Homo sapiens: one gene and its partners. The protein of the gene in region 6 interacts with the protein of the main gene of each other region in a biochemical or structural test. Each region holds a gene or a part of one and is shown on either strand. Other genes may lie near its edges.

The links.
Region 1: the proteins of ERCC6 (region 6) and CLIC4 form a complex in vitro, tested with the Homo sapiens proteins (one large-scale study listed by BioGRID).
Region 2: the proteins of ERCC6 (region 6) and IARS2 form a complex in vitro, tested with the Homo sapiens proteins (one large-scale study listed by BioGRID).
Region 3: the proteins of ERCC6 (region 6) and SUPT6H form a complex in vitro, tested with the Homo sapiens proteins (one large-scale study listed by BioGRID).
Region 4: the proteins of ERCC6 (region 6) and ARPC1A form a complex in vitro, tested with the Homo sapiens proteins (one large-scale study listed by BioGRID).
Region 5: the proteins of ERCC6 (region 6) and SENP2 form a complex in vitro, tested with the Homo sapiens proteins (one large-scale study listed by BioGRID).
Region 7: the proteins of ERCC6 (region 6) and IWS1 form a complex in vitro, tested with the Homo sapiens proteins (one large-scale study listed by BioGRID).

Annotation. Positions count from the first base shown.
Region 1 is NC_000001.11:24,841,558-24,844,944, reverse strand, and holds the end of CLIC4 (chloride intracellular channel protein 4), read right to left. Parts: 3' UTR 624-3,387; downstream 1-623. UniProt on the Homo sapiens protein: In the soluble state, catalyzes glutaredoxin-like thiol disulfide exchange reactions with reduced glutathione as electron donor. Can insert into membranes and form voltage-dependent multi-ion conductive channels.
Region 2 is NC_000001.11:220,092,600-220,097,381, reverse strand, and holds the start of IARS2 (isoleucine--tRNA ligase, mitochondrial precursor), read right to left. Parts: upstream 3,251-4,782; 5' UTR 3,166-3,250; coding exon 2,899-3,165; intron 1,279-2,898; coding exon 1,156-1,278; intron 1-1,155.
Region 3 is NC_000017.11:28,685,691-28,689,889, forward strand, and holds part of SUPT6H (transcription elongation factor SPT6), read left to right. Parts: intron 1-648; coding exon 649-725; intron 726-963; coding exon 964-1,099; intron 1,100-1,397; coding exon 1,398-1,535; intron 1,536-1,613; coding exon 1,614-1,781; intron 1,782-2,400; coding exon 2,401-2,528; intron 2,529-2,998; coding exon of another isoform or gene 2,999-3,044; exon of another isoform or gene 3,045-3,149; intron 3,150-3,663; coding exon 3,664-3,871; intron 3,872-4,199.
Region 4 is NC_000007.14:99,328,395-99,332,593, forward strand, and holds part of ARPC1A (actin-related protein 2/3 complex subunit 1A), read left to right. Parts: intron 1-4,199. UniProt on the Homo sapiens protein: Probably functions as a component of the Arp2/3 complex which is involved in regulation of actin polymerization and together with an activating nucleation-promoting factor (NPF) mediates the formation of branched actin networks.
Region 5 is NC_000003.12:185,620,635-185,624,833, forward strand, and holds part of SENP2 (sentrin-specific protease 2), read left to right. Parts: intron 1-1,191; coding exon 1,192-1,271; intron 1,272-3,363; coding exon 3,364-3,448; intron 3,449-4,199. UniProt on the Homo sapiens protein: Protease that catalyzes two essential functions in the SUMO pathway.
Region 6 is NC_000010.11:49,469,109-49,473,307, reverse strand, and holds part of ERCC6 (DNA excision repair protein ERCC-6), read left to right. Parts: intron 1-279; coding exon 280-399; intron 400-837; coding exon 838-932; intron 933-2,187; coding exon 2,188-2,333; intron 2,334-2,418; coding exon 2,419-3,126; intron 3,127-4,199. UniProt on the Homo sapiens protein: Involved in repair of DNA damage following UV irradiation, acting either in the absence of ERCC6 or synergistically with ERCC6. Involved in the regulation of gene expression.
Region 7 is NC_000002.12:127,523,135-127,527,961, reverse strand, and holds the start of IWS1 (protein IWS1 homolog), read left to right. Parts: upstream 1-1,472; 5' UTR 1,473-1,753; coding exon 1,754-1,787; intron 1,788-4,170; coding exon 4,171-4,286; intron 4,287-4,827.

The DNA of each region.
Region 1 (3,387 bases), on a different chromosome or scaffold from region 6:
ATATTTACCAATTTCTAAAAACTTAAAAGTATACATTGATAATTTCCCACCCCTTTACCTCAGGCACCCAATTCTCCTCCAGAAAAAAACCAATGTTACCAATTTCTCTATTGGCTTTCAATGTGCTTACTATTTGTATATAGTAGTTATATTAAATTTTGTTCCTCGATCTTGCAACTAGAAATCCAGCTGAATTATTTTTAGTATTTGTAAGTTATTTTGGATTTTATACACATACACACCATCAACATCATTACCTGCAAAGGGCAGTCATTTTGTTGCTTCTTTTCCATTCTTTATTCCTTTCACTGATGTTACTGCATTGGCTAGGATATCTCTAAATAAAGTAGCTGTTAAAGTAGCTGGATAGTAGCTGTGATAGAGGGCAACCTTGTCTTATTCTTGACTTTAACGAGATCGCTTCTGTTTCATTTGCTATAGGTTCTCAATAAAAGTCTTTATCAGGTTAAAAAAAAAGTTACCTATTTTGCTAAGAATGAGTAGCATGAATATTTTAATCAAGTTATTTTCTGTACCTATTGAAATGATCCTATGGTTTTTCTCCTTTAACCTATTAAATGTGCTGAATCACTCATAGAAAAAAAAATAGTAGTCTCAAACACTTTTACCCCAAGTTGTTGTTTATTTTCATGAGGGGGGAAAAAAGAATCCTTTATGATAGTGAAAATATACTTTATTTTTTAATACAATAGCTGCCAGCAATATACTGGTGCTGATGTTCCAAAGATAAAAGAAAATACATGCATTCTATAATAAGCTTTCATTTGCCTGTTCAAGAAATTATAAAGAAAATACTCCAATTCTGTTCAACATTACGGCTTGAGGAGTTGAAATTTTTCCATGATAAAAATATACTTTGTGTGGCCCAAACCTTGACTATTTATAAAGGATGGAGTTTTTAAAAGCCCACATGTATCAATAATGGATGCTCCCCTCTCTTTGAATTAAATGCTTAAATTCAAATTAATGCAAGAAATTGGTGAATCATTAAATGATGAAATTTGTATCAAAATGTTCATGAAAAAATACATTTCTATTTCCTCTACATTTTTACTTTGTAGTTATTTTCTAAATGGGTTTAAGGGCACAGAAATAAATGCTATCTACATGCAACTCTGGAGAGATTCAAAACACAACAGAAGTTAACATGCCTAAATCCTAGAGTTGATCCATTTAGTGTAAGAATAAATGTCAGAAATCTCTTAATTGTATACAGATTGCTCAAGGATTTAAAGATAAATTGTGAAAGCCAAAATTACCAAGAAATAAAATCTTATTTGAATTTTATCACAAAAGTTTACAGTCCTAGTAAAAGACAACAGAACTGTATAGAATATCTGCATCTACATCAAAAAAGGGAAGTTTTATCAACTAGAATAGAGAGCTTTCCAACTGCTGAATACAAAAATTTCTCAGAATCTCTTGGAAAACAGATCCATTCAGACTCCAATCTCCTCACTGAAGTAAAACACAAAAGGTGTTTAAATGAAGGGGAATGGATGTTAGTTGTAAAAATAAAATCAGATTATTTCCATTATGGCAATTCATATACTGCATGAACTGTCTACCATGAAAACTTTATGTCCCAAATTTCTCAAGATGTTAAACTATGCTCTTTCCACAAACATACAATGGGGTTAAAGCATGTTGCTGGGTCGTCCTTTTTACTAGCTAGCTTTTGTCCATTTACCAATTTCCATTTCATTTGACTAACTTCCCTGATAAAGTGGTATCTGTGTTTCTACAGAGAAAAATAATTCTGTCTTCATCAAAATCACAATAGACATGCCTTCCTAGAACATTTAGAGGGATGGCCAGGTGTAATCACTGGTTTAATAAAAACAGGAGAATATCCAAAATGAAAATATTTGAGTTTCAAAATGAATTTTCATCACTGTATTCTGAAGAATGTAGTTCTTTCCTCTTGTTAGCCCTCCACCTCGCACCACTCAGTCCACCATTCACTGGAAAGAACAAACCTCACTGCTCTTGAATCTTTTTTATACTTTAAGCTATGAGGCAAGGTTCAGAATCACCAGAATGAATCCCAAGTTGCCACTATTTAAAAAGTAGGTGAAGAATGATAATGCCTGCCTGTGTACTGGTGCAGATGGGACATTTTCACCCACTAAAACCACTGCAAAATAATTTCTCAATAGATAACTGAATAGTGCATCTTCCTTGAACCAGATAAATCATACAATATTTAATTACCAAAAAAAAACCAAGCGGGTACTCAAACTTTTGATAAGCAATAAAGAGTTCTAAGAAAGGTAAGGCAAAGAATCTTCCTGAGCCAAATGGATACAACATGGAGATTTTCTTATCTTTCATACTAAGCTAATTAATGATAGGCTCAAAAAATGCAGTATACTTATAAAAAGCCGCTTTCATAAAGCCAGTGCTTACTAAATGTTAGCATATCAAAGTGGGAGAAACACTGCCATTTTAAAGCAATAAACTTAAAATTTCAAGAAACAGCCTATGAGAAATAGCACTTCCTATACAAATTAGGTATAAAAAAATTACCAAAAATGTATTATAGTCACAATCACAGTCTTTGGAGTAGTACGTAGAAAGTCTGGTTTTGCTTTTGTCTTTTAAAAAAGAGTAAATACATAGCAAAGTTTTATTTTCAGCAAGTTCATCCTCCTGTTAGAACACAAATAATTCCTGGTTTAGGGCTTCAATTAAAAAAAACCCCGAAAAACAAAACAAAAACATGCAGAGTGCTATTCCTCAACATGGCTGTTGGAAAATTTAACTCCAGGAAGTGCAATGAGTGAGATCAGGCAAAACTACAGTAAATACACACTCACCATAACTATAACTTAGTCCCAAAGGAATGAACAATCCTCTATACAAGGTAAATGGGGTGAAATGAGAAAATTGGTGACCTGTGTTTTATCTTTCTTTTATATAGGATGGATAACGCATTCTTTAGGTCATCTACATTAAATGTACTTTAGAAACAAAAATTTACTTGATATTTTGACAAACCCACCCTTCATTCCTTAGGTTAATTTCTGTGTTAATTTTTACATTACTAATCATTGTACTGCTATAGCTAAGTCAACTAAAAATCAGTTATGTAGTGTTGCTCAACAGATGTACAAATAGCAAGCTCTATGATTACGTAAAAACAAGCTTTTTAAAATAAAGAATGCAATAAAGTTCCAAATGAATGGCACAGGGCAAAACACATATAACAAACGTATTTAGACAGAGTATCAGGTGCCCATCAGTTTCTCTTCTAAAGATAAAATGCTTGAGGAAGGTCTTGAGAAAACCCTCACTCCCTCTAAACTTTTAGCTTCTACATGGTGTCAGATGTTACAATTGGTATGAAGGATAAATGCTTTTAGG
Region 2 (4,782 bases), on a different chromosome or scaffold from region 6:
AAAAAAAAAAAAAAAAGAAAAAAGAACTGTTGGGAAAGAGAAGGTGGAATTATGTAAGCCTGAAACTACTGGGAAATGTGCTGGGGGTCTGGGGTGGGGCAGTCACTAAAGTAGCAAAGAGTGAGAGACAGAAACCAATTCTTAATTTTATGTGAATTCCTGATCCAGCTATGCAGGTGGCTAAAACTATCTGGACTCTACAGTAAAAAAGCCAGTAAATTCTCTCTCTTTGCTTAATCCAGTTAATGTTGGCTCTTCCATTCCTTGCAAAAGGGTTTGAAATAATAGAGTTTTATTCTGTATTTATATCACAAAACATGATTTTTTTTTTTTTTTGAGACGGAATCTTGCTCTGTTGCCCAGGCTGGAGTGCAGTGGCGCGATCTCGGCTCACTGCAAGCTCCGCCTCCCGGGTTCACGGCATTCTCCTGCCTCAGCCTCCCGAGTAGCTGGGACTATAGGCTCCCGCCACCATGCGTGGCTAATTTTTTGTATTTTTAGTAGAGACGGGGTTTCACCGTGTTAGCCAGGATGGTCTCGATCTCCTGACCTCGTGATCCGCTTGCCTCGGCCTCCCAAAGGGCTGGGATTACAGGCGTGAGCCACTGCGCCTGGTCTCTTTAATAGCACTATTGACCCATTCAGTGACCAAATTCCTGGTTTTGAAACTACAGATGCCTAAGCCCACTTCCTCCCCAAAATTTCCACTGAAATCTACAAAAAATAAAGAACTGAAAAATGAGTGAACAGATTGTAGTATTAACATATTCTCTCAATGAAATTCTACTAAGCATTTTAAAAATAATGAATTATTGATATCTGTGGGCCAAGCACTGATTACAGGCATGAGCCATACTGCCCGGCCAAGACATACCTTTTTTTTGTCCACTGCTATTCCCAGATTCTAGAACAATGCCTCGCCCGATAATTATGCACTGAATAAGATGATGTTTACTAATATAACGTTAAGCTCAAAGCAAATAGCAGCAATTTTTTTTATGCAGTACTAAAATTGTATATTGCTTTCTATGAAAATGTTTTAGTTTTATGTGCAAATCTAAATTTACATAATTATCATATAATTAGAATACACATTTATAAAGAGTATTTACATAAACACTTTCTTTCAAGTGTCATAACCTAAATTATAGTTACCTTATTTAAAGCATGTCCAACATGAGGGTCACCGTTTGCATAAGGAGGTCCATCATGAAGGCAAAATTCTGTCTTTACTTTTCTTTCTCTTTGCCATGAATAAAGTTCTGAAAATCCACATTTCTGTTTTAAAAAAAAAAAAGATATCTAAACATCATATAAATACATACTCCTGAGTCTAACCATAAATAACAGCCAACACTTGCTTATTTCCATTCCAATTACATTCCAATCTATTCCATTCCAATCTACTCAACTCTGAAATACAAGGTGAGGTTTCTGAAATGCGTGTCAAAGTACGCATCTCTTAAAATCTTTCAGTAATGTCCCCATACACCTCAGATTGAAGTCTAAACTCTTTATATGATATGCAGCACCCTACAAAGGTTTAGTGCCACTAAGTTCTCGGGCATTCTTTCATCACTCCCCATGCTTCACTCCTCACCCCCGACATGTTGAAGGACCTGCAGATTCCCGACACACATATTCTTGCTATTCTTTGGCGGCAATGCTTGCCATTCCCCAAATCTGGGAACAACATGCATGGCAGTCTAAGTCACTTCCCTTCCCTCACTTGCTGTATGATTTTGTCCAGGTTACTGTGCACTTACGGGCCTGCTTTCTTATCTGAAAAAAAAAAGTGTTAATATCCATCTTACAGGGCTGGTGTGAAGATTAAACGAGGAAACATTTGAAACTGTCACTCTTTCTGGCATACAGAAGGTATTGACTAAAAAACCTTTAAAAAATTAGATGAACTCTTATAACTGTCAGAATATTTAGGCTAAGTATATTTACTTAACCAATATTCCAAGAATATCAGGGATTTTTAAAGACTAGAATTACAGAAGCTAAAGAGGAATCTCTGCTCTTAGAAAGTTCAGACTAGGCTGGGCGTAGTGGCTCAGGCCTGTAATCCCAGCACTTTGGGAGGCCGAGGCGGGAAGATCACTTGAGGTCAGGAGTTAGAGACCACCCTGGCCAACATGGTGAAACTCCATCTCTACTAAAAATATAAAAATTAGCCGGGCGTGGTGGTGCGCACCTGTAATCCCAGCAACTGGGGAGGCTAAGGCAGGAGAATTGCCTGAGCCTGGGAGGCGGAAGTTGTAGTGAGCTGAGATCGCGCCATTGCACTCCAGCCTGGGCGACTTCAAACGAGTCATAATTCCAACTAGGGATCTAAAAGATCCAAGAAGTGGGCTTCAACTTCCCCTTCATTCATCATAATTGAGGTTTTTAAGGTTTTTTTTAAGGACGGGGGGGTGGGGGTGACTAGCCAATATGGTCTCGAACTCTTGGCTCAAGCGATTCTCCCGCCTTGGCCTTTCAAAGTTCTGGGATTACAGGCGTGAGCCACTGCGCCCAGCCTGGGTTTTTATTTACATGTGGACATGTGAATTTACTTTTTACAAGGCATTGGAAAAGTGCCCAAAGTCTATCTGTTTTGCCTACGGTAGACATGGGACATACGTGCGATACATGCTGGTAACTGGGCATCGCTAGTGACCCCTTAATGTCCCGCTCCAGAACCTGGTACAAAGGAGGGGCTCATCTAGAGATTTCTTCACTTAGGTTTTCAGCCCACAAAATCTGTGCGAAGCAGACGAATTCCACCAATCTGGTCACACCCCCGCCCACCCGCACCGGCGTGGAGCCTAGAGGTGTGGCGCCTGCGAGCGCCCGGTGCCCGCGGCCGGATCGGGCCTCTCTGGAGGCCCCGCGCCGAGGCGGGGCCCGTACCTGCTGGATCTCCAGCTCCGTGTCCGGCTGCTGGCGGCCCAGCAGCTTCATGGGGAAGCTCGTCTGCGGCAGCAGCACCGTGTCCCGGTATCTGCCACTATTCGAGTTCGGCTGGTGGTTACTGGCCCCGGAGACCGACCGCACCAGAAGCCTCTTCGTCGCCCCTTGCCATCCCGGGCTGCAGGGAAGGCGGGGCGTCCCCCACAAACTTCGGGCAGTGGCCAGGGCGGCCGCGCCCGGCCCGCGAGGGCGCAGCCCCCAACGCATGGTCCGGCAACCCCTGAGAGCGGGGTCCTCCGCTCCCGCCCCAGCTTGAAGGGGCAGGACCCCAGGAAACCAAGGGGAGCCGAGTAAGAGGGCGCACGCGCTCCGGGAGCGGAAGGGGCGGGGAGGGAGCGGCGGGTAGTGGGGGCGGGGCGGTGGGCACCGCCTTCCCGGAGTCCGCGGAGGCTGAGCCACCTCCGGGTCCTCCCTGCAGCCGCCGGGGGGCGGGCTCAGATTCACGGGGGCGGGGAAAGGTGGGGCTCATAGTCCAATCGCTGTGCCCTGCTTTTTAAATATATATATATATATATTTTTTTTTTTTTACTTTAACACAACATAGCTATGATTGTATCACTTTAACATGTAGCCAATAAAAAGTAAGATATTTTACATATTCTCTTCATACGAAGCCTTTGAAATTTGACATGTACTTTGCACATACTGCACATCTCAATCTGGGCTAAACTCATGGCAAGGCCTCAACAGGCACACTTGGGTAATGACTACGACTGTGGGCAGCACAAGTTCAGTGAAAATATTGTAAAATAATAAAATTTCAGCAAATCGAGTTTTAAAGATCTAATTGGCTATTATTAAATATTCCTAAACCTTTCTACAAAATAGAAAGGATCTCTGATGAGCTGTGGGGGCAGGGTGAGGTTTATAGGCAGAAAAGGTTGAAGAAGGCAGAAACAGGGAACGAAAAGCAGACGCCATTTGGCTTAATGGATTTGGCTATCATCTCTCCTGATTTCCTGGAACGCAGACCTTACAAGTAAACAGCCTAGTGCAGGAGCTCAGTCCAAATCAATGACTTCCCATAGATTTTAACAATATTATAAAACAATCTAACCTTTTTTTAAGATTCTCTGAAATCCCTGTTATATCCCACTCATAGAATAGTATGGTATATATAGCAACTTCTGCTCCTGTTTCTGACAGATTCTGCTCTATTTGGTTGTCCAGTTCATAATAGTTCACAATTGTTACCATTTCATTGTTGAGTATACAACTTGGGAATAGCCTTCCTAATCATAAAACACAACATCCAGAACATTTGGTTCACATAAATAAGAAGGACAGATTTTCTACAAGTATGAAAACATATATATACCAAAAAAAGATACCGGAAAGTGAGAAACCAAGTGACAAACAGAAAGCACTCAATGTCAGCCTTTCACCAATCAATGACTCCAGCTCTGTACCTGAATTAATTCACTTAATCTTCAAAACCAGATGAGGTGAAGACACAGCATACCAAAAAAACCTGTGAGATAGGAACTATGAGTATTTCCATTTCACAGCTAAGGAAACTGAGGCACATAGAATTATGTAACTTGCTCAAGATGATACAACTAAGTAGCACAGCTGGAATTCAAACCCAGGCAGTTAGATTCCAGTGTGTGTGCATAGCCACCATGTTATGTTGTCTTTCCTACACTATACTGTGGAAGAAAACATTTGCTACACATTAAAAAATAATAATACACAAAATGCATAAAGAGCTGCTACAGATCAAAAAAACAAATGTAAACAACCCAATTTAAAAAAAAAAAAGGATAAAAGAAGCTGGACACAGTAGCTCATGCCTATAATCCCAGCACCTTAGGAGGCTGAAGT
Region 3 (4,199 bases), on a different chromosome or scaffold from region 6:
CTAGGCAGGTGTCAAACTCCTAGACTCAAGTGATCCATCTGCCTCAGCCTCCCAAAGTGCTGGGATTACAGGTGTGAGCCACTGCACCCAGCCCTTAAAATCTTGAAATGGAGATCAGAATATCTAATAGTCCTAACTACTCACATTTTAGCAAAAGTCACACCACAAATGAAATAGCCACAAAAGGAGGACATGCAGGAGTGTGAGGCAGTGGAAAGTAAATCATAAGAAACTGGACATCTTTAAGATGAAGGAAATCATACTTAACCATGTTGACCTTTTCAAAGGGCCCTCACCCAAAAGAGGGCAGCTACTAGTTCTTTGTTTTGCTTCATCAAAACTAGAACCAATGGCTAAGTATTAGATTTTGGTTTACAATAAAAAAGAACGGTTTCCTAACTTCATCCTTGGGACCTAGCCAGTGGCACCTGGTACCACTGGAGCGCAGTTCTAGTCAGTGGAATTATTAAGCAGAGGCAGGGTTGGCCAACTTTCAGGAAGAGGTGGGAATAGTTCCTTGGTAGCACCTTGGACCAGATATCTTCTGAAGACTTCCAGTTCTTACAAGATCTCCAACATAGGGAGACAGAATTTCCTGAAATCTTTACATCCTCAGAGCCATTCAGCTTCAATTTTCTTTCAATCCAGGCTCAAGACATTGAAACGCTAAAGAAATTTCTCCTGAATAAGAAGCCTCATGTAGTGACAGTTGCAGGAGAGAACAGGTAGGTAGGGATTAGACCACACCTGGTTTAAGGCCGTGACCCAACTCATCCCTTATTATTGAGTCTGGCATATGCCCATAACAGATGGGGCTTGTGCTTGTGCAGGGAGTGTCCCTGGGGATGTTTGACCTCATTTTCTTCAAAGCCCTTTCCTCCCCTACCTCTTCACCCCCAAGGCAGTCATGAGACTGTCCATCCCTAAGAAAACATATTCATTGACCAACACTCATCCCACCAGGGACGCCCAGATGTTGATTGAAGATGTGAAGCGCATTGTACATGAGCTGGACCAGGGCCAGCAGCTGTCATCTATTGGGGTAGAGCTGGTTGACAACGAGTTGGCCATTCTCTATATGAACAGCAAGAAGTCAGAGGTAATGCTGGAGCCTCACCCTTAGGGCCTGCCCAGGCAAGTGCTATTAATCCCAAAGAGATTAAATTGGGAAACAAAAGTTATCAGGGGCACAGGACTGTACCTGTGTACTTATCCATGCAGAAGTTCTCCGTTTTGCAGTTACGGTTCAGATTGGGAGTCCCAGAAATTAAATCGGTCTCAGGAAAAAAGATCCCAGAGAAGCAGAGAAAATGATTTAAACCAGAATGGTTTGGATTTCCTCTTGATGTTGTAGCTAAGGGGATTTTAAGGCCCTGCTGACCCTCGTTTGACTCTAGGCAGAGTTCCGGGATTATCCTCCAGTGCTGAGACAGGCCGTCTCCCTGGCCCGGCGCATCCAGGACCCTCTGATTGAATTTGCCCAGGTGTGCAGTTCCGATGAAGACATCCTGTGTCTCAAGTTTCACCCCTTGCAGGTGAGTAGGATTTGACAGGCAGGCTCGGGTGAAGGGAAAGGCAGAGTAACCTTACTCCTGCCTGCTGAATGTCCACAGGAGCATGTGGTGAAAGAGGAGCTGCTCAACGCCTTGTACTGTGAATTTATCAACCGAGTCAATGAGGTCGGGGTCGATGTCAACCGTGCCATTGCCCACCCTTACAGCCAGGCCTTGATCCAGTATGTTTGTGGCCTGGGACCTCGGAAAGGGACCCACCTCCTGAAGGTAGGATTGGAGTGAATTCAGAAATTTTAAAACTTGCCATTTCATTGAATATGAATATATACTTTGTCAGTATAATTTGACAGATTGGGAGGACCAAGGTCAGTGACTTGTCCAAAATCACTCAGCTAGTGAGAGTCAAAAGAGTCTGACTTCAGACCCAGTTGGCCAAAGCTGTGCCCTTCACTGCTGCTTGCACCACCACACCCAGCTAATTTTTTGTATTTTTAGTAGAGACGGGGTTTCACCATGTTGGCCAGACTGGTCTCAAACTCCTGACCCCAGGTGATCCACCCGCCTCAGCCTCCCAAAGTGCTGGGATTACAGGCATGAGCCACTGCGCCCGGCCAACTAGTGTTAACTTGTAACTTATAAGCCATACATTAGTTGTATATGGTCTTTGGTGTAGGTATAACATCATTTATTTGTTTATTATTTTCCCATTTAAAGCAAAACTTTTTTTTTTTTTTTTTTAATTTTGAGTGGTCGATAGCATGCTGTAGTGCTCAACTAGATACTGGGTGGGACAGAGTTTTTGTTATGAGGGTTTAATAGAGACTGGAACAGTCTGGGGAGGTGGGGCCTGCTTACTGCCCTGGCTCAGTCCAGCTCTCTCCCCCAGATCCTGAAGCAGAACAACACCCGGCTCGAGAGCCGGACCCAGCTGGTCACCATGTGCCACATGGGTCCCAAAGTCTTCATGAATTGTGCTGGCTTCCTCAAGATCGACACGGCCTCCCTGGGGGACAGGTGATGCCCTCTGCCTGGATGGGGCAGGAGGAATTCCCTTGTGGGCTTTGTTTTCGGGTTTCAGGGGTTAGGGCTATCAAAGGGCCACAAGCCATTTTAACTTAGGAAATGTTTTAAAGAAAAGGTAAGGAACTTTATTCAGTCAAGAGCCCCTGACCTATGGAAAAGATCGGTTCAATCATGTGAAACATTTTTCGTGTGAGAGAAACATAAAAAGTACCAGCTTAGCTTATAAATTAAGCATGGAAAACACAAGATTTTGTTCAGTAAACACAAACTTGCTTTTTTATTATTATGGTTTGTTGTGGCCAGATAAGGGTGGGAATAGCGGGGGCAATGAAAAAGGAGTTTGGGGGTATAAAGAGATAAGGAAGGGGGAGAGAGATTTGGTATGTTTTGAGATGATGTTATTAAGAGAAAGTTCTATTCACTTGGACTTTGGACTTCACTATTGACCTCTTCCTCTCCAGAAGTTATCAACTCAGTCTTTGGAGGATCTTTTCCACGGGCACATAGCTCCTCATTCAGTAATGGAAATCAGTGGGGAAATAGGCTTCAAGTTCTAAAACTTCATTTTCCACTCAGCTTTGCTGTAACACTCCACGAATAACATAGGTCCATGTGAGTGCACGGGCAAGACCAGCCTGGGAAGGCTTTATGGGGGAAAATAGCTATCAGCAAATTTTCAAAGGTTTTTTTCCCCTTTCTTGATTTATCTTATTATGAGACTCATATAAGTTCATCATATAAAATTCAACATATAGAAATATTATGCAGAAAGTGGAAGTCCCCCATAATCCCACCCCCCAGAGATAACTACCATAACAATTTTATGTATACTACAGTTTTTCTAAATTTTATTTTTGCTATGCATTTACTAACTACCCATTTACTACAAAAATGGGATCATATGGTTCATAGTGTTTTTGCAGTGCATTTTTCACGTATCAATATATTGTGGCCATCTTTCCATGTCAGCACACATAGATCTACCTCATTCTTGTTAATGGCTGTATAGTATTCCATTGTATGGAGGTGCCCTAATTTATTTAACCAGTTCCCCATTGGTGGACATTTGGGTTGTTACTAGAAGCTTATCGTTCTATATCCTGTTCCTTTTCTGCCTTTCCTCCAGCACTGACTCATATATTGAAGTCCTTGATGGTTCCCGTGTCCACCCTGAGACTTATGAGTGGGCTAGGAAGATGGCAGTGGATGCCCTGGAATACGATGAATCAGCCGAGGATGCCAATCCTGCAGGAGCCCTTGAAGAAATCTTGGAAAACCCAGAGCGACTGAAAGACCTGGACCTTGATGCCTTTGCAGAAGAGCTGGAGAGGCAGGTAAGGGACAGCATGGAAGGCCCGGCAGGAGAACCCATCCCAAGTGGCCAGGTTGGTAGGAGACTTGGGCAGTGAGTGTGCAGAGAAAGCCTGATACTGTTAGTATGGCAGACTTGATCCTCATCTCCCTGCCCTGCTCTACTGGGCTCCTCAAGGAAGTTTTTGGTCTGCTTGTTAAGGAGCCAGGGAAGTCTCAGAGATTGCCACCATAATTACAAGGGGCAGGAGGGAGTTGGGAGGATGTCAGTACTACAGTTTCCGTCTAGGCCCCCTTTCCTCCTTTCTAACAGCACAGCTTTGCATTTATCTGTGGACTCATTGGGGTTCC
Region 4 (4,199 bases), on a different chromosome or scaffold from region 6:
GGGAGAAAGGGAACCTGCTGGCATGTATTTCAGGCTAGGCTCTGTACTACTTGCTTTCACATGTCTCATTTAATTCTCCTTGTGATCTCAGTGGTATATCCACTTTACAGAAGAAAAAAATGAGATTTAGAGATATCAAGTGACTTGCCCAGGGTTTCATAGCTAGTGTGTGTCAAAAGCCAGGGTTCAAACCCAGCCTCGGCTTCAGAGCCCATGGCTAGCCATACATCAGAATGACTCTGTACTCAGTGATAGATAAAGAAAAGGGGTGGGGGCCGGGCATGGTGGCTCATGCTTGCAATCTTAACACTTTGGGAGGCTGAAGTGGGCAGATCACTTGAGCCCAGGAGTTTGAGACCAGCCTGGACAACATAGGGAGACCCCTGTCTTTACAAAAAACTAAAAAATTAGCAGGGCATAGTGATGCATGCCTGTGGTCCCAGCTACTCAGGAGGCTAAAGTGGGAGGATGGCTTGACCCTGGGAAGCCGAGGTTGCAGTGAACTGAGATCACACCACTGCAGTCCAGCCTGGGTGACAGAGCAAGACCTTGTCTGAGAAAAAAACTCAGAGAGAGAGAAAAGGGATGAGGGGGGAGGGAGGGAGGAAAAGAAAAGGGATGAGGGGCAGGGCGCGGTGGCTCACGCCTGTAATCCCAGCACTTTGGGAGGCCGAGGCAGGCGGATCACGAGGTCAGGATATCGAGACCATCCTGGCTAACACGGTGAAACCCCATCTCTACTAAAAATACAAAAAAATTGGCCGGGTGTGGTGGCGGGCCCCTGTAGTCCCAGCTACTCGGGAGGCTGAGGCAGGAGAATGGCGTGAACCCGGGAGGCAGAGTTTGCAGTGAGCCGAGATCGTGCCACTGTACTCCAGCCTGGGCGACAGAGCGAGACTCCGTCTCAAAAAAAAAAAAAAGAAAATAAAGAAAAGGGATGAGGAGTTCCTGGCATTTTTATTTGTCCCCTTTTCTCCCTCTCTAGCTCTATTAAGACAAAGCTTTTCAGATTTCACTTAAACATTAACCATAGTTTAGAAATTATAATTATCACCCTATGACAGAAGGTACCCTTTCTTGGTACATAATTCAAGCTATTAGGAATTTCTTCTGCATTCACTGGGTTTCATGAATGCAAGTGGTGTTTGCTAGGTGCATTCTAAATTTGACAAACATGAGTGTTGTCTTGGCCTGCAGACTTAAAATAGCCACCTGATTATAAAAGAAGTACAGGTCTTAAGTGTATGTCCAAATATGGAACTTGAATGATATGGCAAAATTAGAAATGCAATTTTAGAAGTAATTACACTGTTGTGTAAATGGCCACCTCTTTTGAAGTCTTTGCTACATTGCTTATAAAACACTGAGTTGAACATGAGAAAGCCTTTTGTCTGCAGCTGTACTTTTCAACTGGACATGAACCATGTACTTTTATGGCACGTAGATATTCACATCAAATTTCTGATTTGCAGACCGATTTTATTTTTAGTTAACAAATAAGCTTATCAAATGTGGCTTTTGAACTAAAGCGCTTTTAATTAAGGAGTTATAACAGCATGTTATTTTGAGTAGCTGTTACTAAAATCTGTTGTGATGGAACAATTTGGAGTGAGCATCTGATATCAGAGATAAAGAGAGAAGCATGCAGTGAGCATCTGGAAGTTCTTGTAAAAAAAAAAAACAAATTAAACATTCTCATTTGAATGCATTTAAAATTTTTTTAAATTGCCAATTCCTAAGCTTTTTCTTTGTTAGTTGTAGTTTGCTTTCTCGACTGTATAAAAGAAAAAAGTAATGACTTAACTATCTTCACTCTTAGAATAGAATATGAAATGCTAGCATTTCTCTGCCAGTTCAAGGTATCAGATGTTTTTTATTTAAAGTTGCACTTACCTTTGGGTTCCCCCCCCCTTTTTGTTTGTTTGTTTGTTTTGTTTTGATACAGAGTCTCACTCTGTCACCTAGGCTGCAGTGCAGTGGCACCATCTTGGCTCACTGCAACCTCCGCCTCCCATGTTCAAGAGATTCTTGTGCCTCAGCCTCCTGAGTAGCTGGAATTACAGGTGCCTGCCACCATGCCCGTCTGATTTTTGTATTTTTAGTAGAGATAGGGTTTCGCCATGTTGGCCAGGCTGGTCTCGAACTCCCGACCTCAGGTGATCCGCCCACCTCGGCCTCCCAAAGTGCTGGGATTACAGGCTTGAGCCACCATGCCTGGCCTGGGTTCCTTTACAATTAGCAGAGGTGCTGCTTCTGCTTTCTGAGACTGATTTCTGCTTTGTCAGCTGAACTTTCATTGTTCACTTTACAACCTTCTAGTGGCCCTTCCATTCATTTCCTGCTTGCATCAGAATTCATATCTCACATTTCAGCCTCCACCCAAGGTTAACATGACACATACTTACGTGTGTTGAAACTTGAGTTTATTGTGAGGGTGCCTCCTGGAAATGATAAAGTTGGGGGTAGAGGAAGGCTGGCTGCTTTTTGAAAAATGTTCCCATTTCAGTTAATGGTTGCTTCTTCAAGTGTATCTAGATTTGGGTACCTATAAAATAGAGAATTTTTAATTTAATGTTTTGCAGATTCCTGCTTTTCATTTAGTTACAATTAAAAGTTTAAAAAGTATTATCACAAACGCCTACATACTCTTTGCCTAGATTCACCAGTTAGCATTTTGCCACATTCACATTCTATATATTTTCTGTCCTGAACTATTGAAAATAAGTTACAGTGGCTGGGCATGGTGACTCATGCCTGTAATCCCAGCACTTTGGGAGGCTGAGGCAGGTGGATCACTTGAGCCCAGTCAGAGCAGCCTGGGCAACATGGTGAAACCCCATCTCTACAAAAATTACCTGGGCTTGGTGGTGCATGCTTGTAGCCACAGCTACTCAGGAGGCTGAGGTGGGAGGATCACTTGAGGCCAGAAGACGGAGGCTGCAGTGAGCATAGATTGCACCACTGCCCTCCAAACCTGGGTGAGAGAGCAAGACCCTATCTCCCCTGCCCCCCACCCAAAAAAAGAAAAGAAGTTACAGAAGACATCATGATACTTCATCCCTGAACACTTCATCATTATCTTTGTCTCCTAAGAGCTAGGACATTCTCCTATCTAATGGCAATACCGTTATCACACCTAAGAAAATGAAAATAATTCCATATGTAATATCTAGTTTAAATTGTAATTTTCCCTGTTATACAAAATACATCTTTTCTGCCCATTTTTTAAAATGTGGATTATGGGCCAGGCACAGTGGCTCACACCTGTAATCTCAGCACTTTGGGAGGCTGAGGAGGGCGGGTCACTTGAGGCCAGGTGTTCAAGACCAGCCTGGCCAACATGGTGAAAGTCCATCTCTACTAAAAATACAAAAATTAGCTGGGCCTGGTGGTGCACACTTGTAATCCCAGCTACTCAGGAGGCTGAGGCAGGAGGATCACCTGAGTCCAGGAAGTGGAGGTTGCAGTGAGCTGAGATGGTGCCACTGTACTCCAGTCTGGGCAACAGAGTGAGACTCTGTCTCAAAAAAAAGAAATTATATTATAATCAACTTTCACTTATCAAATTTGGTTTTCATAGCTCTCTAGAACAGTTCTCATCCTGCCTCCATATTGCCTTTTTGGAATAGTCCAGGCCAGTTCTTCTATAGAATGGCACACACCCTGGCTTTAACTGTTTATTTCCTCCTTGTGTTGCTTGACTAGTTCCTTTATCCTTTATTTCTTGTAAACTGAAAATTAGATCTGAATCTTGATTGGATTTAGAGTAAATATGTTTGGCATAGAGACTTCATTGGTAGGTTGACCATATTCCCAGGTTTCTCCAGGATAGCCCTGTGACCTGTTGTGTTGGCATAATTATTATTTATTTTTGCTCTCAGAAGTGTTCTGGTTTGGATGGTACGTTAAGTCACTATTTATAAGTGACGATGTGTACTTCATGTGGACTGCCATCAGGAGGCCCATCCAGTTAGATTGATCCACTATTTATAACATGGTGATTACGTGGTGATTGCCAGATTTCTTCAACGTAAAGGCATCTTTTTCTCTTTGTAGTTAATAAGCAATCTGTGGGATGATAATTTGAGACTAGGAATATCCTGTACCCATGGTTTAAGAGTCCATTGACGACCCTGAACAGAATAAATTCCACATTAGTTGTTACAATGCTAGATTTATTCAGATGGTTAAGTTTTGAC
Region 5 (4,199 bases), on a different chromosome or scaffold from region 6:
GGGGTTTTACCATGTTGGTCAGGCTCGTCTTGAACTCCTGACCTCGTGATCCGCCACCTCAGCCTCCCAAAGTGCTGGGATTATAGGCGGGAGCCACCGCACCTGGCCGAGGAGCTTTCATTTTTAACAGGAAAGAGTCTTAGTATGCATAAGGGTTATTTATATTTATTTAGTTTTGTTTACAAGATAGTACAGGTTTATTGCAGAAAAATGCATTTATAAGGCCAGGTGTGGTGGCTCATGCCTATAATCCCAGACTTTGGGAGGCTGAGGCAGGAGGGGTTGCTTGAGCCCAAGAGTTTGAGACCAGCCTGGGCAACATGGAAAGACCCTGTCTATACAAATTTAAAAATTTGCTGGGCGTGGTGGTGCACACCTGTGGTCCCAGCTTTGTGGGCATGGTGGTGCACACCTGTGAGAGGCTGAGGTGGAAGATTCCCTGAGCCCAGGAGGTCGAGGCTGCAGTGAGCCGTGATCACACCACTGCACTCCAGCCTGGGTCACAGAGTGAGATCTTGTCTCAAAAAAAAAAAAAAAAAAAAAGAGAGAGAGAAAGAAAGAAAAGAAGGAAAGAAAGATACAGATATAAAGAAAGCAAAAAAAAAAAAAAAAGTCTCATCACTCTGAGAGGACCACTAATTTTTTAACTTAAAAACACACTTTTTTTACTAAAGATACGTAAGACACATTTTTAACTAAAAAAAAAAAAATACATGTACCAATATAAGTGGATATCGTTTTTCTTTTTTTTCTTTTTTTTTTTTTTTTTTTTTTTGAGACAGAGTCTCGCTATCACCCAGGCTAGAGTGCAGTGACACAATCTCGGCTCACTGCAACCTCTGCCTCCCGGGTTCAAGTGATTCTTCTGCCTCAGCCTCCTGAGCAGCTAGGATTACAGGCGCGTGCCATCATGCCCGACTAATTTTTGTATTTTTAGTAGAGACGGGGTTTCGCCATGTTGGTCAGGCTGGTCTCGAACTCCTGACCTCATGATCCGCCCGCCTCAGCCTCCCAAAGTGCTGGGATTACAGGTGTGAGCCACCATGCATGGCCCATAAATGGATTTCTAAGATACATAAAAAATTTATATTGGTACATGTATTTTTTAAAAGATGCTTTTATTTTTGGAAGTAAAATTCTCACTCCTCTTACATTTAAGATGTTTCTGGATGTTATCTTTTTCCATTATAGGTGATTGACCTAAGAAAAAAGTGTCTTAAATATCTGGATTCTATGGGACAAAAGGGCCACAGGATCTGTGAGATTCTCCTGTAAGTAAAGGTTGAAAACCTCACTACCCCCTGTTGAGGTGATCTCTCTTTTATCTCATCCTAGGAAGCTGTGTGGATGGTAGTCTAATGTGTAGTTAAGGCTATTTCAGGACTTAGCATGCATTTTATTTTTAAAATAATAGCTGATTTCAACTGAGAAAACGTGTTTAGTAGCATCACTGGAAACAAGTTTGTCATGTATTATGATGTAAAATAGATCTTATTAGAATCCTGTGACTTGCATTAGATTTCTTTGGCATCGATACGTTATTCTGAATGTTCTTAGGAACTGTTAGTTGGGGAGTGCTAGTCCTCTCAATTCTTAAGCCCATTTGTATCTTTATGCTTTCCATGAGAGTTGGGTTTATCTCAGAACCCAGGGGCAGTGTTTAAAGTGTGTGGTTTGAGGAGACTGTTTCAAATAGTAATTGCTATAATAGAAACCAATCTTTAAAGCATACCTACTTCTTAGCTAGGTAAAGTAGTGACATGAGTTGAGTGAGAAAACGCATCAGTAAGATGGGTCCATTTTTCCTTTTCTGCTCACTAGAAGCAATGAAGTTCCTTCTTTTAACTTTACTAAGGACAAATGAATCTTGTGAAGAAAAGTTGTTGCTAACAATAATATTGTTTTAGTATAAAATATTATTTTTATTTATGGTTGTTTATCTTGAATAAAAAGCATAGAGAAGAAAATTCTAAAAATCATAAGATACACCAATTGTTTATAAAATGGTTCTCTTCTAGTCTTTTCTTTGTAAGATGTGTATAAATTGTGCGCACATACATTTGCATTCATATGTATACATATATTATCCCATGTATAGAAATGTTCTTACTGGGATCATACAGTATAGTTTGATGTGCTGCTTATACCAGGATTTGAAAATTCATACTTTATTACATTCATGCTTTTTTTTTTTTTTTTTTTTTTTTGAGATGGAGTCTCATTGTGTCACCCCATGCAGTGGTGCAGTCTCAGCTCACTGCAACCTCTGCCTCCTGGGTTCAAGTGATGCTCGTTCCTCGGCCTCCCAAGAAGCTGGGAGTACAGGCTTCCGTCACTATGCCCGGCTAATTTTTGAATTTTTAGTAGAGACAGGGTTTCTCCATGTTGATCATGCTGGTCTTGAACTCCCAACCTCAGGTGATCCGCCCGCCCCAGCCTCCCAAAGTGCTGGGATTACAGGCGTGAGCCACCGTGCCCGGTGGTCTTTGGCTTTTTATGTTATTTATTTATTTGTTTGTTTTTTGAGATGGAGTTTCACTCTTGCTGCCCAGGCTGGAGTGCAATGGCGTGATCTCGGCTCACCGCAACCTCTGTCTCCCGGGTTCAAGAGATTCTCCTGCCTCAGCTCCCAAGTAGCTGGTATTAAAGGCTTGTGCCACCACGCCCGGCTAATTTTGTATTTTTAGTAGAGATGAGGTTTCTCCATTTTGGTCAGGCTGGTCGCAAACTCCCGACCTCAGGTGATCCATCCGCCTTGGCCTCCCAAAGTGTTGATATACAGGCGTGAGCCACCGCACCCGGCCTATGTTATTTTTTGTATCTTAATTTTGGTGGGGGCATCTAATGCTTATCAACCTGATATATATTTCAACTTTTAAAAACAAGCATGTACAATTTTTATAAGCAGACCTCCCCAAATTAAATAAAAAATCCAGAAAGCCACTTTGGGAGGCTGAGGCAGGCGGGATCACAGGCTCAGGAGATCGAGACCATCCTGGCTAACACGGTGAAACCCCATCTCTACTAAGAAAAATACAAAAAATTAGCAGGGCGTGGTGGCGTGCTCCTGTGGTCCCAGCTACTTGGGAGGCTAAGTCAGGAGAATGGCGTGAACCCGGGAGGCAGAGGTTGCAGTGAGCCGAGATCGCGCCACTGCACTCCAGCCTGGGCGACAGAGCGAGACTCTGTCTCAAAAAAAAAAAAAAAAAAAAAAAATCCAGAAAGCAGTCACGTTTTTAAAAAGCTAATGAATATGGATTTGAGAATGGCATATCTGTTTAACATCAGAAAGCCCTATGTAACCATAATGGTTAATTTCTTTAGGGATTTATTGATGTATTCCTTCTTTGTTTTGCTTTTTAGTCAGTATTTACAGGATGAAAGTAAGACCAAAAGAAATAGTGATCTGAATCTTTTAGAGTGGACCCATCACAGCATGAAACCACACGTGAGTGACGATCATCTACATGTGACATACTTGGTTGCATTTACTAATAGTATATTATCTAGATTTGGCTCCCTTCCTGCCCTTCCTCCCTCCCTGCATGCTTTTAAAGTACACATCTTTTTTTTTCTTTCTTTCTTTTTTGTAGAGATGGGATCTTGCTTTGTTGCCCAGGCTAGTCTCGGGCCTCCCAAAACAAAGTGCTGGGATTACAGGTGTGAGCCACCATGCCTGGCCAGAGTCTACATCTTAAGAATGATCTGCTTCTAAATCTCTAGCAATTAATCTAACTAAAATGGGTGCTTAGCTTTCATCTTCTTGTCTAAATGTAAATATTAACATATGCTTGCATGTCTCTCACAGAATTGGGAAGAAACCCAATACATTGAAGTTGGCTAATTTCCCGGTTGGTGCTAATGAAAGTTTACATTTCTTTTCCAAAATTTGGGAGTTTGTTTAAGTCTTAGGATCCCATGCCAAAAAAAGCATTTTAATTTCTAAACTGAAAAGTTTGGGCCAGGCGCGGTGGCTCACACTTGTAATCCCAGCACTTTGGGAGGCCGAGGTGGGCAGATCACCTGAGGTCAGGAATTTGAGACCAGCCTGGCCAACATGACAAAACCTTGTCACCACTAAAAATTAACTGGGTCTGGTGGCACGTGCTTATAATCCTAGCTATTCAGGAGGCTGAAGCAGGAGAATCACTTGAACCCGGTAGGCAGAGGTTGCAGTGAGCCGAGATCGCACCACTGCA
Region 6 (4,199 bases):
GGGGGCGGGGATTGTGGGCATGTGTATGTTCAAACAAAGAATGCGTTTTCTACAGCATGTATTTTCCTCCTAAAAACCCAATTTTTAAATATTTCTATTAAATATTAAAAGTAAAAGCTGTGAAATGAGATTTTGATTCACCAGAGGTCTCTAGGACATTACCATTCCTTATATTGGGAACAGCCCAGTAATTCCATGTGTACAATATGTGGAGGCAGAGGCTGAGAACTGTAACTGGTCTTAAGTGTGTGTGCTCAGTGTTGTGTGTCTTACCTCTAGGACACATCCATATTTGTGTTTCTTCTGACCACGCGGGTGGGCGGCTTAGGTGTCAACCTGACGGGGGCAAACAGAGTTGTCATCTATGACCCAGACTGGAACCCAAGCACGGACACGCAGGTTTGTTTTTATTTTTTTTTTAAAAGAATGTATTAGTAGAAATATAGTTTCATGGTTAGCGCTTTTGACTGTCCTTTGATGTTCTGGTTGGCTTCAGCATACGTTTCACATTTTGATTGTCTCCTGTTCTTCAACGTGAAAGAAGACACCCTTCAGAGTCAAATGGACAGGAACCATCTTCAGCAGTTTATCCATAGCATTCATTCCTAGAGTTGGGGTAAAAAGAACATAGGCAAAGTTACAAACATTTTTTCAAGTAGAGATGTCTTTTCAACTGGCTGTTCATCTTCCTGAGTAGGCCTTAGGTGTACTTGACGTCATGAGTCAAAATTCTAACTCTGGGAGTGACAGGTAGTGACCAGCTAGCTTTGTTTCTTATAGTCAGTGCTTGTCATTGGGAAGGATTCTCGTTGAGAGGTCTCTCTCTCTCTGTTGCAGGCCCGGGAGCGAGCATGGAGAATAGGCCAGAAGAAGCAAGTGACTGTGTACAGGCTCCTGACTGCGGGCACCATTGAAGAAAAGATCTACCACCGGTCAGTGCACACAGTGGCCACTCTTGGCTGTGCGTTCCCAGAGTCTTGAGCAGGGAATTTTTCCAAAGTGTTGTTTTTAAAAGTCTTAACATCTTAGAATAATAGTTGCTATAACTTAAGGCTTTGGTTTTTGTTTTGTATTTTTTCTTTCCCTTTAAAATATGCTTAGATGTCTTACTGTGAGTTGTCAAAAAATGTCTTTGAACCTGATAATTTTTGTACCTTATTCTACCTCAAGAATCACATACATGTAAACTTCATATTGTTATTTGAAAGGAATATTTCTGCCTGCTATGGTGTGTTGCCTTCAGAAAAATTTTAAAAAATGACAAGGTTGAATGTTACCATATTGGTGTTTACATACCACATTATGCAGGTAGGATCAGTGTGGGTGTTCTGGCAGTCTTTGACTCTGATGCCCCTTACAAAGAAGTCGACAGGATGGCTGTTTCGTCCTCTGTCTTTCCATAATGACTAGGGGATTTTAGACAGTGGTAACTTCAACAGTAGAATCAAGACATTGCCAGCTTCTCCCACTCCCCCACCACAGACTTTATCCTTGAGCCATAGCCCAGCTTTTATAGGAAGCTCTGTGCCCTTTACCACATGCTGGGCCATTCCTGGAACATTACATCTTCCTCGAGGGAGTGTTGTGTGAGGGTGGAGGACGAGTTGGATCCTGTGAGAAGAGAGCTTCCTTTTATAGATTCATGCTTTAGCTGGGAGAATAAATGACAGGGAGGGACAGGGTGGCTGGTGGAGGTGCCTGTTCCAGAGTGGCAGTGGTGTGGGGCTTCAGCAGAGTGTGGACCTGCAGGTGGGAGCAGGGAGAGAGAGGTCAGAGTGGAGACATTGCAAAGCCCAGGTAAGAGAGTTTGCTGAGCCCTATGATAGGAAGGTTCTAGGCAGGGCAGGACCCTTGGTATTCAAGTCAAGGAGGCTAAGAGAGACTATGAGTCACATGATGGCATGTGAAAAGGTGTTTCTTGAAATGTGTTAGATCTTGGAGGTTGAAAAAGCTCATTCGGTGTAAATAATAAGGTATTATTTCTAATTTAAATTCTGCAAGACCTGGGAGATTAACTGATGTATTATATATTTCCTGAATTGTAATTTTCCAAGGCTGAAAGTTTGGGGGATTATTTAGCCATTCATGCAGCAGCTGTTATCATCTCTCTCTTATATTGCTTTATAACTTGAATTTTTAGGTAGAGCTACACATTGTTTTATACCAGCTTATCTTTTATTTTTTTAGACAAATCTTCAAGCAGTTTTTGACAAATAGAGTGCTAAAAGACCCAAAACAAAGGCGGTTTTTCAAATCCAATGATCTCTATGAGCTATTTACTCTGACTAGTCCTGATGCATCCCAGAGCACTGAAACAAGTGCAATTTTTGCAGGTATTACATAAAATCATTTAATTTAAAGTAATCAATTGCACAAGATGATACAATATAGTATTAGTGGTGTTTTTCCTCTTTACAGGAACTGGATCAGATGTTCAGACACCCAAATGCCATCTAAAAAGAAGGATTCAACCAGCCTTTGGAGCAGACCATGATGTTCCAAAACGCAAGAAGTTCCCTGCTTCTAACATATCTGTAAATGATGCCACATCATCTGAAGAGAAATCTGAGGCTAAAGGAGCTGAAGTAAATGCAGTAACTTCTAATCGAAGTGATCCTTTGAAAGATGACCCTCACATGAGTAGTAATGTAACTAGCAATGATAGGCTTGGAGAAGAGACAAATGCAGTATCTGGACCAGAAGAGTTGTCAGTGATTAGTGGAAATGGGGAATGTTCAAATTCTTCAGGAACAGGCAAAACTTCTATGCCATCTGGTGATGAAAGCATTGATGAAAAGTTAGGTCTTTCTTACAAAAGAGAAAGACCCAGCCAGGCTCAAACAGAAGCTTTTTGGGAGAATAAACAAATGGAAAATAATTTTTATAAGCACAAGTCAAAAACAAAACATCATAGTGTGGCAGAAGAAGAGACCCTGGAGAAACATCTGAGACCAAAGCAAAAGCCTAAGAACTCTAAGCATTGCAGAGACGCCAAGTTTGAAGGAACTCGAATTCCACACCTGGTGAAGAAAAGGCGTTACCAGAAGCAAGACAGTGAAAACAAGAGTGAGGCCAAGGAACAGAGCAATGACGATTATGTTTTGGAAAAGCTTTTCAAAAAATCAGGTAATCCATTTGATACGTTTGCCACAGGGATGCTAGGATTAGAAAATGAGTAGGCTGTTTCTAGCAGTAGCAGTCTTTAACTGATGGTGCATAGAGGGCTGTCAGCCATTAGTGTTTTTCTTCAAAAATTTAGATTTGAAATATATTGACATTTTAAAAATCGTATTTACACCTCTTTTCTGAAGACCTAGAATAATTTGAAACTTTGGAAAACAATAGTACTTATGGCCACTCATGGGAGGTGTGCAATTCTTAAATCGATGTGTACTACCTGAACATTAGTAGGCAGTTACTTTACATGCTATATGCTACATTAATCTGATTTTCCAACCACAGGAGATTAAAGTAACATCATAAGGGAGAGGGACAAGCGTGTGGCTAGAGACAGACATTCTAGAAGTATGAAAGCTGATAGCTTATGTCAAGGGAGAAAAGTTAGGAGATGTAGACTCAACAATTGCTCAAGACCATGGAGTATATAGATAGCCCTGCTTAGTGATCCCTTAGCAGTCACTGTGTTCACAATGTGATGGCCTTGAGTTACCAAAGATTGCTGCTTATGGTACTCAGTTTAAGAAGGCAGGTTTATGTGTAGCATTTCAGAAAGACTTTTATTTAGCATGGTTAATTTTTTTGTTAATTTCATATTTTGAAGTAATTTCAAACTTAAATCAGTTGGGTCTCAAAAAAAAATCAGTTGGAATAATACGAAGAACTCTCCTATATCCTTTATCTAAGTTATTAACATTTTTCAGCTTTTGCTTTATCATTCACACACACACCCATCTATGCATACATTTTTTTTTTGGTAGGAATGCCACAGAGGTGATACCGTATCTTACTCAGTGCATCTATCAGGAGACACATGCTGGTTTGACCTATTACAAGTTGATTTTTAAGATCACTTGGTTAAGGTGGAGTCTGCCAGGTTTCTCAATGCTAAGGTTAATATTTTTACCTTTGTAATTAATTTGTGCTTTCAAGGAATATGCTTTGAGACTGTGTAAATATCCTGTTTCTCATCAAACTTTTATCCACTAGTTTTAATATCTATTGATGATTCTTTCCTCAGT
Region 7 (4,827 bases), on a different chromosome or scaffold from region 6:
TTAGAGCCTTGATATCTTCTATCAAGTGATTCGGTTTCGGGCATTGCTAATTCTTTGTTCTTTTGATTCTCAAGACTGCCTGAGAAGATGTCATTCCCACAGCTGAAAAGAAGGAATTTGGATTCAATGCTGTTTCCACCACTTCGGAAAGGAATATCCATGAACTCTCTTGCAGGAAAATGGGAATTTCCAGAGAGAAACCACTTCTCCCCTTTCTTCTCTTCCCACGTCCTCTTCAGGAGCCTATAATTGGGCTCTGCCAGCATACTCTGACTGGCTAACGAAGGGTCAGATATCTGCAGTAGTAACAAAAGGCTCTTTTTCTACATGTCTACACCTCCTGGGGAGTCTTTGCTTAAACCTCTACTGGCCCTCCTCCGATCCAAAGGCAAGAATGTTCCCCTCTCTGTCCAAGACTAAAATGAACAAGTAAGGAAATGGATTTTACTCAGCCTATTGCAATAGGGAGAGCACTCCAGATATGATCAGTGTCTTGGCAGCGTAGTTTTGACTTTTATAGGGAGGAAGGTGGGATGATTGACAGTTGGGATTGTTTTGCAATCAGGAGAAGTTTCAGTCAGGTGAACAGGAAATGTTCTCTGTGTCTAACAAGTTGGGGGGAGGAGAGTTCTAATCTCAACTAATCACTCGATATCATCAGCGGGAATTTGGAAGGTCTGTTTGGCTTTATTAACAGGCTCAGAATAAAGGGGAAAGGTCTCTGGCCTTGTCACAGGCAAACAAGGGGGTCATCTGCACGCGTTTTATCTGAGTCACATGGAGACGGGTGGTTCTTTACAGTGTGCCGTTCCAGAAACACAAATAGATGAGGGGGTTTCTTAATCACCGCTGTTTTCCAGGAACACAGGGCTCAGGTAAAGTTCAACTTCACCTTCCTCCGGTGTTTCATCAGGGGAACCCTTCTGGAAGCAAAGACGTGTACTTCTTACTGTTGGCTAAATGGCTTCTTAACAAGGAAATTAAATCGTTGTTTAGAATGAAAGAGAGGAAGACGCCGGGAGAGGAGGCGCTGTGGATCGCGCCAGTTAGTAACGCATCACAGCTCGCGGGCGTCATACTACAAGTCCCAGTGAGCAACGCCCGCTTTCTTGCCTACTGCGGGCGGGAACCAGGCGCCTCTGGGCCTGACGGGAAAGACAGTGGTTTGGCTGAATGACGGAAAAGTCATTTGAGCAGGTCTTCATTTTTCGGAAGAGTATCTCAAAAGCTCTTCAAACAAGGCACGGACACAGAATCTAGGAAATGATAAAGAATCAATGATAACGTTATTACCACGGGGGTCAGACCAGGATCCACCCGAGGAAGGTATTTAACTAAAGCCCGAGTTCCAGCTCAATTTTCCCAGGAGTCTCCTTTCCGGCCGTGCCTGGCGTCATTGCTGTTGCGTCTTCTCATTGGCCGGTTGACGGGTTGCGGCGCCTGCGCGCTGCATTCCTTTGAGGGTCGTGGGCAGACGCCATTTTGGCCCCAGCGGTGCTTCTAGGAAGTAGAACGCCGGCTCGCATGCCTGCCCGCCCGCCAGCCTGCCGGGTACGGCCTTTTCCGCCGGGGCTTCCAGGTCAAAGAATTCGCCTTTGCCGCTACCGCTTTCTTACCCTCCGCACCCGTTAAGTTCTCCGGTCGGGCGGCAGTCTCTGAACACTTAGCCGCGCCATCCGGGGTCACACCGCCTGGAAGGAGGTGACGGGGGCGGCGCGGGGCGCGGACACTCCCCGCTGAGAGTCCGCCTGCCATGGACTCGGAATATTACAGCGGCGACCAGTCAGGTGGGGCAGGGACCTGGGGGACCGGGCTGGGAGGCGGAGCAGTTACTCGGCGGGGCTTGGCCTGGCACCCCGCGGGTGGGGGCAAGGAGGCCCCCCGAAACCTTCCCTCCCGCGACCCGGCCCGAGGAGGGCAAGAGCCCTCTGACCAGCTGCAAGCGTCGAAGCTAGAACGTTGGAGAGGGGATTCTGGTGGGAAAGCTTTCTTCTGAATCGGCGAAGGTTTTTGCTGAAATTGGGAAGTCACTTTCATATGTTAAGCTCCTATTGTGTGCAGGGAAGGAGAGGTGTCTTCTGTTAAGAGAGTTTTCAGTAGTTGAGTAGTTGGAGAATCCAAGGGGCGTTGGGGCGGGGGATCCTTCCTAGACTTTTCACTGCTAGTTAGGAGTGGTTTAATCTTGCTTGCAACACCGGACGTAAGTGCAGGACCCATGTTTCAGTTGCATGCATAGAGTAAGGAATGCGCTTCTGGCACTTACTGGTGGTTTTTGTGCCTTTCCTCCACCTTGAGATCGTTCCTCTTCCTCCTCACCGAAGTTTGGTCTCCTTTCTTTACTGTTTGTTTATTCTGTAAGCTGTTACTGGGGCCCACTCTGCTGGCACGGTGCTTGGCACCTGAGATTAAGGATAAGTGAGGCAGAACCTGGTGTGGGAAACACGTCGCATTTGCTTTCCCTTTGTGTGCTAGTCCTGTTGGGGCGTTCTGTTACAAAAGTTCTTAAATACACCATAAATAAATACACCCTCTATGTACCCACAAAAATTGAAAATTAAAAAGAAAACTTGAGTGCTTAAATAATTGTTTAAGCGTTAAGCCCTTTACTGTTTTGAGTTCATTGCTTTTCCTTACGTAGGACAGTGAATTCTAATGACTGCAAAGCGTTTTCCAGGCATGCACTGCTTAAAAACACTTTCCTAAGCCAGGTGCGGTGGATTATGCCTGTAATCCCAGCACTTTGGGAGGCGTAGGCGGCCGATGGCTTGAGCCCAGGAGTTCGAGACCAGCCTGGGCAACATAGTGAGACCAACACCACCCCCACCCCCCATGCCCGTACCCCACCCCCCTACGCCCCTACCCCACCCCCCTACTTCGTCTCTACAAAAAAATGCAAAAATTAGCCGAGTGTGGTGGCATACACCTGTAGTCCCAGTTACTCAGGAGGCTGAAGTGGGAGGATCCTTTGAGCCCTGAGCCCGGGAGGCAGAGGTTGCAGTGAGCGGAAGTTGCACCACTGCACTCCAAGCCTGGGCGACAGAGCAAGACTCTGTCTCAAAAAAAACAAAAACAAAAACAAAAACAAAAAAACACTTTCCTGATACTTTCAGAATAGTTTTTTTTCCATTCATTTGTGTTTTTAAGTTACTTTTTAAAAAGTAGACCGAGCACGGTGGCAAACACCTGAGGTCAGGAGTTTGAGACCAGCCTGGCCAACGTGGTGAAGCCCATCTCTACTAAAAATACAAAAAATTAGCCAGGCGTGGTGGCGGGCACCTGTAATCCCAGCTACTCAGGAGGCTGAGGCAGGAGAATCACTTGTTGAACCCGGGGGGGTGGAGGTTGCAGTGAGCTGAGATCACACCATTGCACTCCAGCCTGGGCCAAAAGAGCAAAACTGTGTCTCCAAAAAAAAAAAAAGTAATTATATGTAATACATGTATATAGGTTAAAATACGATTTTACTCTGTATTTTTTAAAGTATTGGGGCTGGGTGTAATCCCAGCACTTTAGGAGGCAAAGGCAGGAGGATTGCTTGAGGCCAGGAGTTTGAGACCAGCCTGGGCAACATAGCAAGACCCCATCTCTACAAAAATATAAAAGAAAGTTAGGTAACAGTTTGTATTTACCATTTTATATATGCTTTTCTTGAATGGATTTTCACTAGTTTTGGACTGGAGTTCCTTGTGTTCTTCATTTGTAAACAAATACTTACTGTATATCAGGTACTAGGCAGTGTTCTGGGCTCCAGAGATTTAGCAGTGAACCAAAATCCCTATTCTTGTGGCATTTTCTTTCAGGTGAAGAAGACCCACGTTAAACAAAATAACTTCAGGTAGTATATTAGAAGGTGATAAATGCCATGGAGAGAAAGACCCAATTTTAACATGAAGTTGAAATAAATTGTTGACTTGGTGTTTAGTGTTGTTTCTTAAGCTACAAATTGTTTTTATGGTGTAGTTTTGCTGCCACGTATTTCACAGTACATGTTATGCTTGTTGGTGTTTGTATGAGTATTGTATTACCTTATTCAAAATATTAGCAACTTTAGTTAATGCTTCCTCAGTGGTAACTTTTGCACTTACGTTATTCTTGATTCAGTGTGTTCATTTCACTGTAGATGTCATTCATCTTACACCATAAGTTGGTTTTTGTTTTGTTTTTAATCAGATGATGGTGGTGCTACCCCAGTACAGGATGAACGGGATTCAGGGTCAGACGGTGAGGATGATGTAAATGAGCAACACTCCGGATCAGACACTGGAAGTGTAGAACGTCATTCAGAGGTATTGGCTAACCAACATCTTTGGGAGGGCTTTTCCCTTGCGTTCTGTGAGATCTGTTATATTATAGGAGTTACAGAATCTCTGTGACAGAGTTTAGGGTTTAATCTCTGAGAGTAAAGGAGCATAAGTTAATAGAAAACCGCTTGAAAAATAAATAGGGATGGTCTGGTTACTGTTGAAATCACAGTGAAATATGTTCTGATTGGGTCACATTTCAAATGTTAGGCAGTTTTCAACTGTGCATATTGATTCAGAAAATGGGCCCGGCCTTTGATATTTGACTAAGTTTCCCTATTCTGCAATAATGTCATAGTGGGGCATTGAGCATTTGCAATCTGAAGAAACACCACTTGAAATAGAAAGTTATGGGGGTTATCACCTGTCAACATTTATGTCAGCATTTGCCCTTCTGATTTTGAACTGTTACGGTGTATATAATGTATGTAATAATAATGCTTTTTTTTTTGAGACAGGGTCTGACTCTGTAACACAGGCTGGAGTACAGTGGTGAGACCTCGGCTCACTGCAGCCTCTGCCTCTG